Linked DNA regions of Homo sapiens. The protein of the gene in region 1 purifies or fractionates together with the protein of each later gene. This does not show direct contact. Each region holds a gene or a part of one and is shown on either strand. Other genes may lie near its edges.

The links.
Region 2: the proteins of ERI3 (region 1) and TTK fractionate together in Homo sapiens (co-fractionation; one large-scale study listed by BioGRID). This does not show direct contact.

What each region holds. Positions count from the first base shown.
Region 1 is NC_000001.11:44,320,758-44,324,257, reverse strand, and holds part of ERI3 (ERI1 exoribonuclease 3), read left to right. Parts: intron 1-3,500.
Region 2 is NC_000006.12:80,039,149-80,042,648, forward strand, and holds the end of TTK (dual specificity protein kinase TTK), read left to right. Parts: intron 1-547; coding exon 548-724; intron 725-1,047; coding exon 1,048-1,132; intron 1,133-1,457; coding exon 1,458-1,555; intron 1,556-2,970; coding exon 2,971-3,054; 3' UTR 3,055-3,379; downstream 3,380-3,500.

The sequences.
Region 1 (3,500 bases):
TGATTCTGCGGAGAGTTTTGTGTCTTCTGGTACAGCTAGGCCTTTGGCTTGTCTCCTCCACTTAGCAGCCCTTTCATGTGATTACACAACAAAAGTTGAGAGAGTGAAGCCTGTGTGCCAGCATAGGAATTAGGTGCTGGAGATCACACTGAAGGCACATGGTTCCTGCCTTCCCTGATGCCATCTGTGCCATCTGTGTTACTGCAGCCATGGTGGAGTCTTTTCAGTAGCAAACTCTAGAACTTTTCTGCCTGGAGAGTCCACATTCATTGCTCTTAAAATTTGAGAGCAGCCTCTCTTTCTAGATGGTAGACTTGAGTTCTCTACAGGATAGCCTTTTAGACTAAGAGAACCAGATCTTTCTTGACCCTTCATATTTTGAAAGCTGCTAGTCCTACTCTTAAGTCTCATTCTCATTTTCCCATTTTGGAGTTCCAGCTCTGTCCCTCACAAGCAGTGTAAGTGTCAGCAAGTGAGTTAACATCTTTGGGCCTTAGTTTATTTGTGAAATAGGGATGACTATGATTCCCACCTCATGAGTTAGGAGGATTAAATGAGATCATTCCTATTAGCACAGTATCTGCCACGTAGTAAACAATAAATGGAATAAAACGATTGCATTTTCCACATGTCTTGGAGAGCACTGGAGGCCAGCTCCTCTTCACCCTTTGCCCAGACTTGAGCATCTCAGAGAGAGGAGCCACCTTTCATTGTATTCATCTCTGTGTCTACAGCCAGCCCCTGCCTGGTGAATAGTAGATGCTTAATAGTATTGATTTATGACCTGAAGATGGTGATGGTGATGATGATGTAACCTGTCTGCCAGGATTAAGGAGGGTAAAATAAGAAAATGTATGTGAAACTACACTTTTGTGAATGGAAAAACAACACTGTGTACGTCCCTCCACTAAGGTATTTATCACAGTGTACTGTTCTTTGTTTGCCTATCTTTTCCACTCATAGTCCATGTGCTTCTCCAAAGTGGAGACTACATCTTATCTCTAGTCCTGCTCCAGCCCCTGTCTGATAGCCTACACAAAGTAGGCACTCAGGTAGTTTAATTGAATGCAAATGGCATACAAAGGCAAAGAATTGTAAAGCTATTATTAGGATAGGGAAAGAGGGCTGGTAAATACGACTGGTCCTTCCTTCCTTCCTGGTGCTACTTTTACACAAAACTGTTTCTGAAATAAACCTCTTCCTAGGGGAATGATGAAATTGGCTGAGAGAAAAGGTCAGGGTCAGGAATAACAGTTTCATTATCTGAGCAACTGGACATAGAGGCTGGCACTTGGGCACATTGTCACAAATCTTTGTGTTGGGATTAATGCCACTAACCTGTAGTGTTGGGGTTCCATCTCTGATCATTATCAGCTAAAAATCTTCAAAATGTTTGTCATGCTTCAGGTGCCCTGGCTGCAGAGTTGTGCCAACTTGGTGCAGATTGGGGCACCTCTCCCACTACTGGGCTGTTTGGGCCAGTATTTTGAGGTTCTGGGAAGTATGGAAGTACTGGCTGGGCAATATGGGATGGTAAGAAGTACCTCAGTGAGGTCCTTGCTGCTCTAATTTCTCAGAGAGTCTTTTCTCAGAAGCTTCTCTTTTGCATCCTCAGTAGCTCAAGTGAATATGCCAGTGTGTAGGCTCATTGTTAATAACAGCTCCTCATGTTGTGGAGGAAGGGCCCCTGCAAAGTCACGTTTTGAGACTGGTGCTTGAAACCACCTCTTCTTGGTCTTGGGGAGAAGGCTTGGCTGATGAGCTAGCATTATCAGAGATATGTTTATAATAGGCCCAATTTGATGTGTCCTGAGCCTTGGGTGTAGGCACCCTGGGAATTTCAGGGGCCTACCCCCCTCCTTTTTTTTTTTTTTGCGTGGATCCGAGTCTGGCTTGTTCTTCCTCTCTGGGAGCATGGCACTGAGTTTCAGCACGTAGTTGGCCCCATTTCCCTATGGGTGAGGAAGCTAACATCAGGAAAGTTTGAATATTGAGCTACAGTATTTGCTGTTATTTGCTGCAATGCGGAAACCCAAAGGCCAAGTTTCCAGAGAGTCTGCTGGGGATGTTGACTTGGTGCTGGTCAGAGTGGAAGCTGAAGCACATACTATTTTATAATAAATACTAATGAAATCCTAGATCTATAATAGCATTTCGGATATCTAAAACAAACCATGTGCTTGTAAAAAAGTGGAAAGAGATCAACTTTAAGCCATAAATTCTTGGTAATAGAGGGTTTTTTTCTATTAATGTTTGATAGATATTTTTATTTCCAGAGGAATGTCAACTCCTAATTTCATAATGTATCATGGGCTTAAGAAAATTGAATTTAATAAAAAGCCAAAGATGAATGGCATCCTTAAAGGTCCCAACACTTGTCTTTATTAGCAGGACAAACTGTAGGTCTCCAAACACTGCTGCTCTCCAAATGAAAGTTTAAATGAAAAGTACAGTTGTGTCACAGGTTAAATTTCATTGTGGGCCCAGCTAACATTGTTAGTGAGGAGCTGGCTGTATTTGTTTCCTTAGACACCAGGGCAGCCATACTCACCAGGCTATAGAGCTCTTTCTGTTGAGGAAGTGTTTCTTCTACTTAGGGGAAGAGGAAGGACACATCGGAAAAATCAGGAGTCAGATGAGCCTGATTCATGGGCAACACCTCAGAGTTGGCTCTTGGAATCCTGGATACCTGATTTTGCAGGGGGACCAATGTGTATTTTTTTGGTGTGTGTTCGATTTTGTTATTCAGTTCCAAACCCCCATTTACTCTGTATGTAATGCTTCTTGGGGAACAGAAGGTCCAGGGAATTGGGAAATGAGTGTCCCCCTCTCTTCACCTTGGAAGGAGAGGTATTACCTGGTCTAAGCAGCAGTCTGGGCCTCCCTTCTCTCCCCTCTGCCTCAGCCTTGCAGCCATTTTGCCCTTTCTATCTCTGGGAATAAGCTCCTGTCAGCTTCCTCATCTTTGGAGATCAGCCCACGGAGACAAGGCAACCACAATCTTTGAATCTCTCTGGCATGAAGTCTGACTGACTTGATTTGGTTTTCGGTCCTGATGTGTTGGATTGAAATAGATGCTTTAAAAACAAGCCCAATATTAGTGGGTATGTTTTGCCGGGAGGATACCTGGCTTTCCTGGGACATCAAGGAGATTGACCATTTCTCCTTGTGTTTTCCCACCCATCAATTTCCTAAGTGCAGTCAGGTGTCATCCGTTTCGTGTTGCTTCTCCAGGCTGTCTCTGGAGAGAACCACTTTACCTTGATTTTAATGATACTGGAAAGGTCTTCTCCAGAATGAAGGACCTGGGGAAGGGGTGCTGCTGGAGCTGACTATTAGGGTCACTGAATAGGCAGAGCCCCCTTCCTTTCTCTCTGCAGTGGAGGCCCTTTCCACATGCTAATTTTACTCAGAGAATTTTGCTTTTATTTATTTTTTTTATTATTTCCTATTTGTCTCTTCCAGATGTTTTCAGGGCAGTTTTTTTTTGTGTTGTAAAC
Region 2 (3,500 bases), on another chromosome or scaffold:
ATTGCTAACTGAATTAGTTTTTTACTTTGAAGATGTTTTAAAGCTTGTAAATACTTGAGGATTTTGGACACAAGCTCCGCATAGTTCTATAGTATATGTGCTTGGGTTTAAAGTTGTATTGCTTATTTATTATTTCCAATGGTCTTGTCTGAAGGGTTGCATAATTTAAGCAACCTTTGAAACTGTATACATACTTTGTACTTATATAAAAATTTATTATAATCCAGTAATTCTGGGGAAAACAAACTTAAAACTTACATTTTTTAATTTTATATTTTCACAAGTTGGGAAGAATTTAATATTTTGTCTTAATTGCAATATTTTAATTATGAGGTTATAGAAAGATTTAAAGTAAAGCTCATATCTTCTGATGGAATAACCAACTGAAATGAAAACTAGAAAAAGATGTTTTGTCATGTTAACATAATGTAGTACACATTCATTGAGATTTAATTATGATTTTAAATATGTATATTTAATATATATGTTTTTTCATTTTATATGAAAATAACAGCAACTTTTTTGTGTTTGTTTGTTTTTTTCTTAGATAAGCCCCAAAAGTGATGTTTGGTCCTTAGGATGTATTTTGTACTATATGACTTACGGGAAAACACCATTTCAGCAGATAATTAATCAGATTTCTAAATTACATGCCATAATTGATCCTAATCATGAAATTGAATTTCCCGATATTCCAGAGAAAGATCTTCAAGATGTGTTAAAGGTAATATTAATTTCATGTAACTAATTATTTACTTAAAAGAAATAGTTGAAATAATTGGAATTATGTAACTGGCTTAGATATAACTGTTCTATTCAAAAGAATTGCTAACTGAATTAGTTTTTTTACTTTGAAGATGTTTTAAAGCTTGTAAATACTTGGGGATTTTGCAAAAGTGCCTTGGGAGAAATAATCTTGTCATAATACTTTAGTGGGATATCTAAAAAGTAACTTTTATAATATAATGTAATCTGGAAAAATACTTTATCAATATCATATATGAAAACCTGCTTTGTTTTTCTTTTAAAATATCTTTGTTTTAATAGTGTTGTTTAAAAAGGGACCCAAAACAGAGGATATCCATTCCTGAGCTCCTGGCTCATCCATATGTTCAAATTCAAACTCATCCAGGTACTACTTCTTTAAAAATTTGTTTATTACTAGATTGGTAGTATAAACAGTCTGTTACCTATTAATATAACAAAGACAGAATCTAAATTGGCTACCCTTTGTCAGCCTGCCTTTTTCCTTAAGGAAGTTCCATTATTATAAATAGTAAAGTAAATAAACTTTTTTTTCTTTACTTCTGGTATTTATTTTTACTTATTCCAGATAACGGGTTATAATCAGTGATAAATTATAAGAATATCACTTTGTGCTATTAAACAAAATGTGTATTTACAATGGACTTATATTTTTCTTACTGGTACTAGTGTATTATTGATTTATTTTATAGTTAACCAAATGGCCAAGGGAACCACTGAAGAAATGAAATATGTTCTGGGCCAACTTGTTGGTCTGAATTCTCCTAACTCCATTTTGAAAGCTGCTAAAGTAAGTATGTCTATTCTTTACATTAATTTTTACTGTTTTATATAGTGAATTCGACACTTAAGGAAACAGGTAGTCTGAAGAAAAGTTGGTCCAATCATCAGATCAGTTATGAAACATGTTTCTACATTTAGATACTTAACATGTGCATTTTGACAAATATCGATTTACTTGATTTATATTCTTCTTCTGCATACAGTACAGTTCAAAGTAGATCATCACATAAGGTGCATTCAAAAGATTGCTGTCACGTCTCAACTGGAATACATTTAATATAGGAATATAGTGTGTCTTTTAATTCAGCACCATTATTAATACAGCTTTTGAATTCATTCCTTTTAGCCAGTTTTTTCCTTAGAGACATTACATGTAATGGCTTTTTTGAAGCTGTACACAGCAATCAACACAATTCTCAAAGCACAAGTCTCAAGCTTTTTAGCTTCCCAATGTCCATTTATATCTATACCATGATTTTTCAAACACCTAGTTATTTCTAGAACCCTGTGAATGCTTATTGACCAACTGATTTAGCCAACAAGCAGTTACTAATTATGTATTTCAGTTACAACATTATCATAAAATTATGGGAACCTAAACTATCAATACTCGTAGCTCTCTGGATACATATAAAATCCATCTAAGTTGCCAAGAACTTGAATACATTTTTTGAAGGAATTTACTATATATTCACTATATTTGCATTTATATGATATGAGGTACCTGTTTTCTTAAATTTTCTCAAATGCTAATGGCTAAATCAATGGATTTAGTAATTAAAAGTGGACCAAATTTGTTTTGTAATTGCTCTGTATTTTGTATCTCCATGTTTTAAGTTTATACTAATATATTATTCAAAGCCTCTTATAGCTATAGTTGAGGTGGATTATTTTTATAACTGAAGTTGTATGTTCCTTGAGGGCAAAGATGTCTGCCATCTTCATAAGTTAGATGTTAGCTGAGTCTTAAATCATTTTTAAATACATGGATTTTAATATATATCTAATTATTATATTTATATAATTTGTAATGTCTTCTATTTATTAGCTTATTATCATCTGAGAATATAAAGTTTCCTAATAAATATATTTTGTATAGGAATTTACCTAAGACTGGCTTTATTTAAGAAAAAGTAAAGAGATAAAGAAGGCCTTGAAGGCTCATATGTATGTTTATTAGTAGCTCTGTTATATTTCTCTCATAGAAAGATTGAGTTATATCTCATGATAGGTAATGCTTAAGGCCAAGCTTCGTGTTTAAAATTCTTTATTATCTCTAATAGTTTATAAAATAATTTCCCAACTGTAAGAACAAGAGAGAAATAAATGTATTATATTTAGAATACATCAAAATACATCTACTGATGTGACAGTACATTTAACTAAAAAATTGCAAAACAGATTTGTGTTTTTTAATTTCAGACTTTATATGAACACTATAGTGGTGGTGAAAGTCATAATTCTTCATCCTCCAAGACTTTTGAAAAAAAAAGGGGAAAAAAATGATTTGCAGTTATTCGTAATGTCAGATACCACCTATAAAATATATTGGACTGTTATACTCTTGAATCCCTGTGGAAATCTACATTTGAAGACAACATCACTCTGAAGTGTTATCAGCAAAAAAAATTCAGTAGATTATCTTTAAAAGAAAACTGTAAAAATAGCAACCACTTATGGCACTGTATATATTGTAGACTTGTTTTCTCTGTTTTATGCTCTTGTGTAATCTACTTGACATCATTTTACTCTTGGAATAGTGGGTGGATAGCAAGTATATTCTAAAAAACTTTGTAAATAAAGTTTTGTGGCTAAAATGACACTAACATTTCAAAGTTGTAAGGTTGTTTTCTTTAAGCAAATGTATTGTTGGCATGGCAGCAAAATTCTTAATTAGTAAAAAGTAGATTAGGGAAGATGTGAGACTAGACCTTAGTAAATGAACTTTGAAA